2 separate regions of the Homo sapiens genome follow, and region 2 is linked to region 1. The links come from fine-mapping of genetic effects on gene expression. A gene starts in region 1. The other region holds a variant in brackets. All regions are shown on one strand. Distances are from middle to middle.

Region 1 (2,806 bases):
CCCGCAGCAATTAAGCCGCCCTGCTGCAGCAAAAAAAAAAAAAAAAGCAAACACTCCTGTGGCAAAAAGGGAGGGATGACATTATCACTGGTATGAAAGGCCCAAGCACTGTCTCCTCCGCCCTAGCCTCGAAAAGAAATTCACACAAAATAACCCACCCCCCCAACAAAAACAGAATTGCCAAAAATGGCACAAATTGTTTGTTTGGCCTTTAAAACCTTATGAAACTCCAAGACTGTGTGCTTAAAGGAGAGATGGGAATATCAGTAATATCTCTATTTGTCCGGACTGCCACTTAAGGAAAGAGGGAGGGGGGACCTTGGCATGACATCGCCCATTGAGAACGAGACCACAAATCTGGTCCTCCTCTTCAAAGGCGTATTTTCTTAACCAAAAGACTGATATAAATTGGGCCCAAACCCCAAAAGAAAATTTCCTGCCCTCTTCCCAAGGAGTTTCTTGCTAAGTCACTGAAGAAAGGTAGCATAACATATAAAGCTATGGTACCTTGCTCTCTCCTACTAAATACGGAAAACCTCTTCCCCTCTACTGCTACGTTTAGAGGTGCAGAGTCAAAATGTGTCGACCACCTCAAAGGCATTTTCTCATGTGGGAGGCTAAAGAGGGTAAATATGCAGAGGCACTGCGTTTCCCAAAGGGGCAGGGAGATGAGATTAGACGAAGGGGAATGGCAGGGAGCCTCGAAGCTGAATGTTAACAGCATCAAAAGGCAACTCCCGACCGAGGAGCCGGTGGCAGAAAGAAAATCCTGCCAGATTCGGTGGGTGGATGCTGCGGATTGCTCGGTGGGCCGGGCTGCCTCTCCTCGGCGGGTGCTGAGGCTGGACCGCCGCACCGGGGGCCAGGGAGACGGTGGGCCACCCTCCGCTGGTCAACCCCATCTTAAGGACCAGTCGGGGACGGAATGCCTGGAAGGCCCTATGAGTGCCCCGGCGGCGCGGGGCTGAGCCGGTCCCCGAGCCGATAACTGAGGGTGGGGTGGGGACTGCGGTGCTCGTCTCCGCGGCCGGGGAGAGCAGGGCCGATCCTTTTCCCCAAGATCAGAGAGCTACCTGGTCCCCACGCCCTTCCAACCCAAGAATACTTTTCTTGCTAAGTCACCGAGGGAGGAGGGCGATCCCTTCTTGGGGAGGGCCGCGGGGCGGGGGTCGCAGAGGCGCCGGCAGCCCCCAAAGCCGGGCCCGGGAGGAGAGGAGCGAGGGCAGCGCCCTCCCCGGACAGTCCCCCTCCTCCGGGTCTCTCACTCAACGGCCGTCGCGGCCGCCATTTTGAGAGCGAGGAGAGAAGAAGAAGGAGGAGGCGGCGGCGGAGGCAGGGGGAGGGGAGAATGGGAGGGAGGGGACCGGCGCAGCCACATCGTCAGGCCGCCGGGTCCGGCCTGCAGCCGCCCGGGCGCGGTGGAGGAGACAGAGGGGAGGGCGCAGACCCGCGCCGCCTTACCGGAGCGCTGCACCGCCGCCTCCGCAGGGCCTCTTCCGTCCTTCACTCCCATCCACCGGCGGGGGAGGGGGAGGGAGAGGGGAGGGAGGAAGGAGGGAGGGAGGGAAGGAGGGGGGAGGATGGCGCGCTGGGCCCGGGCCCGGGGAGGGGGAGGGGAGGGGAGCGGGCGGGCTCCTCAGCCGTTCCGGGGCTCGAGTCCAAGCTCGGCGCTCGCGGTTTCTCTCGCTCGCGCCCGAGCGCTCCCCTCCTTCTCCTTCTCGCTCCCTAGACTCCCGTGTCGCTGCTCCTCCGCTCGCTCACTCGCTCTCCCGGCCGCCGGACTCCGCCGCCGCCCCGCCGCTCCAGCTCCGTCTGTCACAGGAGCTGCCCCAACGCCCTGACGTCACCGCGCCGCCGCCGCCGCCGCCGCCGCCGCCCCAGACCCGCCAGGAAGAGGGAGGGGCGGGCGCCGGGAGCGGAGGAGGGGCTGCGGCGCATGCGCCGGGCTGGGCCGGGCCGGGGCCGCGCTGCCTTCTAGCGGGCGGGCGGCTGAGCGGTGCCACCCGGCCGGCGGGCGAGTCTGCGTGCGAGGTGCTGCTTCTCACGCTCCGCACGCTTCTGTTAACCTTGGGAGAGGCTCTTTTTTCCCAGCCCCTCGTCTGACTTGCGGCCCCTTCTGAACTCTGGCTCTGCTCACCTCGCTGCCCTGCTTTTGCGCTCATGCGGCCGACCGCGGCGTCCCGTTGGCACCGTGTGTGGCGGGCCCCGGGAGGCGCGAGAGGCAGCGGGGCCCGGCCACCTACCGCCCCTTTCTGCCTCCGGCCTCCGAGATGATTTCCCAGTTTGGGGGGGAATGAGGGAGGGGAGTAGGCTGGCTGGCTTGGGAGGAGGAGCTGTTGAGGTTAAAAGGCAGATGGAATGCTGTCATTGTCTTGATTTGTATTATAGATTCTTAATTGGGAGGACTCGCTTTTGGATATGATTCAGCTATTCTTCTCCTTAGTCACACACAGACATCAGAGTCTCTCCAGGTCTCGAAACGGATGCCCAAAGAAAGGCCTGGAACTGTATCCCTATAAGGGATGTCTGTGTGTGTTTGCTAAATTATGGATTGAAATATTGATGACAAGAGTCGTCTTGGGGATTTGTAGTTAATTTATTCCACACAGATACCTATGATTTTTCTTTTCTTTTCCTTTTTTTTTTTTTTTTTTTTTTGAGACGGAGTCTCGCTGTGTCGCCCAGGCTGGAGTGCAGTGGCGCGATCTCGGCTCACTGCAACCTCCGCCTCCCGAGTTCAAGCGATTCTCTGCATCAGCCTCCCGAGTAGCTGGGAGTACAGGCACTTGCCACCACGCCCAGCTAA
Region 2 (2,806 bases), 32 kb before region 1:
AGGTAACACTGGAAAAACCCTTCTAGACATTGGCTTAGGCAAGGATCTCATGACCAAGAACCCAAAAGCAAATGCAATAAAAACAAAGATAAATAGCTGGGACCTAATTAAACTGAAGAGCTTTTGGATGGCAAAAGGAACAATCAGCAGAGTAAACAGACAACCCACAGGGTGGGAGAAAATCTTCACAATCTATACATCTGACAAAGGACTGATATCCAGAATCTACAATGAACTCAAACAAGTCAGTAAGAAAAAACAAACAATCCCATCAAAAAGTTGGCTAAGGACATGAAGAGACAATTCTCAAAAGAAGATATACAAATGGCCAACAAACATATAAAAAATTGCACCCAGGCGGGGTGGCTCACGACTGTAATCCCAGCACTCTGGGAGGTCGATGCGGGCAGATCACAAGATCTGGACTTCAAGACCAGCCTGGCCAATATGGTGAAACCCTATCTCTACTAAAAATACAAAAATTAGCCGGGCTTGGTGGCACGCGCATGTAATCCCAGCTACTTGGGAGGCTGAGGCAGTTGAATTGCTTGAACCAGGGAGTCAGAGGTTGCAGTGAGCCAAGATCGCGCCACTGCACTCCAGCTCTGGGCGACAGAACAAGACTCCGCCTCGGGGGGGGGGGGGGGGGGAAGAAAGGTGATGCCGGTTCAAGTTTGTCATCAACTCTATAACCTGAGTAATTAATCTAAATTTTCTACATAGTAGCTAACATCTAAGGCACCCTTTAACTCAGATTATTTCAGCCTGTGAATTTTCTAACTTTAACCTTTCCAACCTTTAACATGTATTTTTGCTATCAGAAAGCACAAGTATATGATTGAGTTATCATACTTATTTTAAGAATACAATTTTACCTTTCCAGTTGCCTTTTAATGGTTAACACATAATCGCAAAATACCACATGAAAACAGAAATAATTTTTTTTTTTTTTGAGACGGAGTCTCACTGTCGCCCAGGCTGGAGTGCAGTGGCGTGATCTCGGCTTACTGCAACCTCTGCCTCCTGGGTTCAAGCGATTGTTTTGCCTCAGCCTCCCGAGTAGCTGGTATTACAGGTGCATACCACTATGCCTAGCTAAATTTTTTTGTATTTTTAGTAGAGACAGGGTTTCACCATGTTGGTCAGGCTGGTTCCCAACTCCTGACCTCAAGTGATCCACCTGCCTTGGCCTCCCAAAGTGCTGGAATTACAGGCATGAGCCACCACGCCTGGCTTTTATTAACGTTTTTCTGTTTTTCTTGAGACAGGGTCCTCACTCTGTCACTCAGGCTAGAGAGCAATGGCATGATCGATCATAGCTCACTGCAGCCTCTAACTCCTAGGCTCAAGAGATCCTCCTACCTTAGCCTCCTGAGTAGCTGGGACAACAGATGCATGCCACCATGCCTAGCTAATTTTTTCTTTTTACCCCCAACCTCCGCTAGAGACGGGGTCCCGCTATGTTGCCTAGGCTGGTCTTTAATTCCTGGGCTCAAGCGATTCTGTCACCTCGGCCACCCAAAGTGCTGAGATTACAGGAAAGAGCCTCCATGCCCAGCCTCTAATAAATGGTTCTTAAATGGAGTAAACATTTTTTAAAGAAAGAGTTTAGAATATTTTGCAACGAACAATCTACATTAACCAACAGTACAAATAAATCAGGCAA[T/C]ATTTTCATACTACCTGGTATAGAAGTTCTTAACCTTTTTTGAGGTTACTGGACTCCTTTGAGAATATAATGAAAGCTAAGATCTTTCCTCTCAAAGAAGCACATATGAAAATAAACAAAATATTGCATGTATTTTAAGGGGGTTCACAAATCTTTCCAAAGTCAAAATAACGAATAAGAAGATTTAATATTTTTGAAATGTATTTTGGCAGTATTCCAATATTCTTTTAAGCTACTTGCATATATGACAAACAAAATTCAAAGAGTCTGATTTTTTCATTTGCATGTCAATATCCAGACTTTCTTAGACTGATATCAAGGACACTGTTGCTTAAGCACTAGAAACAGAGGCTTTAGTATGCTTTTGGAATGCAGAATTCTTAAGCATTCTCTAGTCTAATACTATATCCACGTATCTGCTATCCAATGCAGCATCTAAGACAACAATGTGTTTATTGCTAGGGTAAGTACCCCACCACAAAAAGAGAAAGTGGAAGAGTTAAAAAAAAAAAAATAGAAAGTATAAATAATTATATGTTAACAGTAGAGGCGCAATGACATGAAAATGGAAATCATCGGATTTATTATCAGATGTAGAAGGAAGAAATAAAGACTTATCCGGTAATTCATCAATTATCAATGGTTCCTAACCTCAAACTGTCACTTGCCAAAGCTTTATTTAAAAGGTCAGCAGAGGCCGGGCACAGTGGCTCAAGCCTGTAATTCCAATATTTTGATGGACCGAGGCATGCAGATCGCTTGAGCCCAGGAGTTCAAGACTAGCCTGGGCAACACAGAGAAACCAGGTGATATGGTTTGGCTGCGTCCCCACAGAAATCTCAACTTGACTTGTATCTCCCAGAATTCCCATGTGTTACGGAAGGGACCCAGCGGGAGGTAACTGAATCACGGGGCCAGTCTTTCCTGTGCTATTGTTGCGATAGTAAGTCTCACAAGATCTGACAGGTTTATCAGGGGTTTCCATTTTTGCTTCTTCCTCATTTTTCTCTTGCCCCTGACATGTAAGAAGTGCCTTTCACTTCCTATCATGATTCTGAGGCCTCCCCAGCCATGTGGAACTACAAGTCCAATTAAACCTTTTCTTGTTCCCAGTTTCGGGTATGTCTGTATCAGCAGCAA

The links. PIP is the estimated chance that this variant, and not a neighbour inherited with it, causes the effect. A credible set is the group of variants that fine-mapping cannot tell apart.
Region 2: its variant is the best candidate, but not a certain one, in a credible set for the expression of PAFAH1B1 in whole blood (TOPMed, PIP 0.74).

Annotation. Positions count from the first base shown.
Region 1 is chr17:2,592,662-2,595,467 of GRCh38, reverse strand. It overlaps PAFAH1B1 (platelet activating factor acetylhydrolase 1b regulatory subunit 1), which reads right to left and starts at 1,814. Exons shown (of 11, transcript NM_000430.4): 1 at 1,462-1,814. RefSeq lists silencers at 966-1,015, 1,076-1,135, 1,546-1,775, 1,826-2,045 and an enhancer at 1,880-2,608.
Region 2 is chr17:2,624,398-2,627,203 of GRCh38, reverse strand. The region is part of intron 1 of PAFAH1B1 (platelet activating factor acetylhydrolase 1b regulatory subunit 1); the gene reads right to left. Among named protein-coding and RNA genes, the nearest start is that of PAFAH1B1, 32 kb to the right of the region's middle. The variant T/C (reference allele first, on the strand shown) is at 1,667.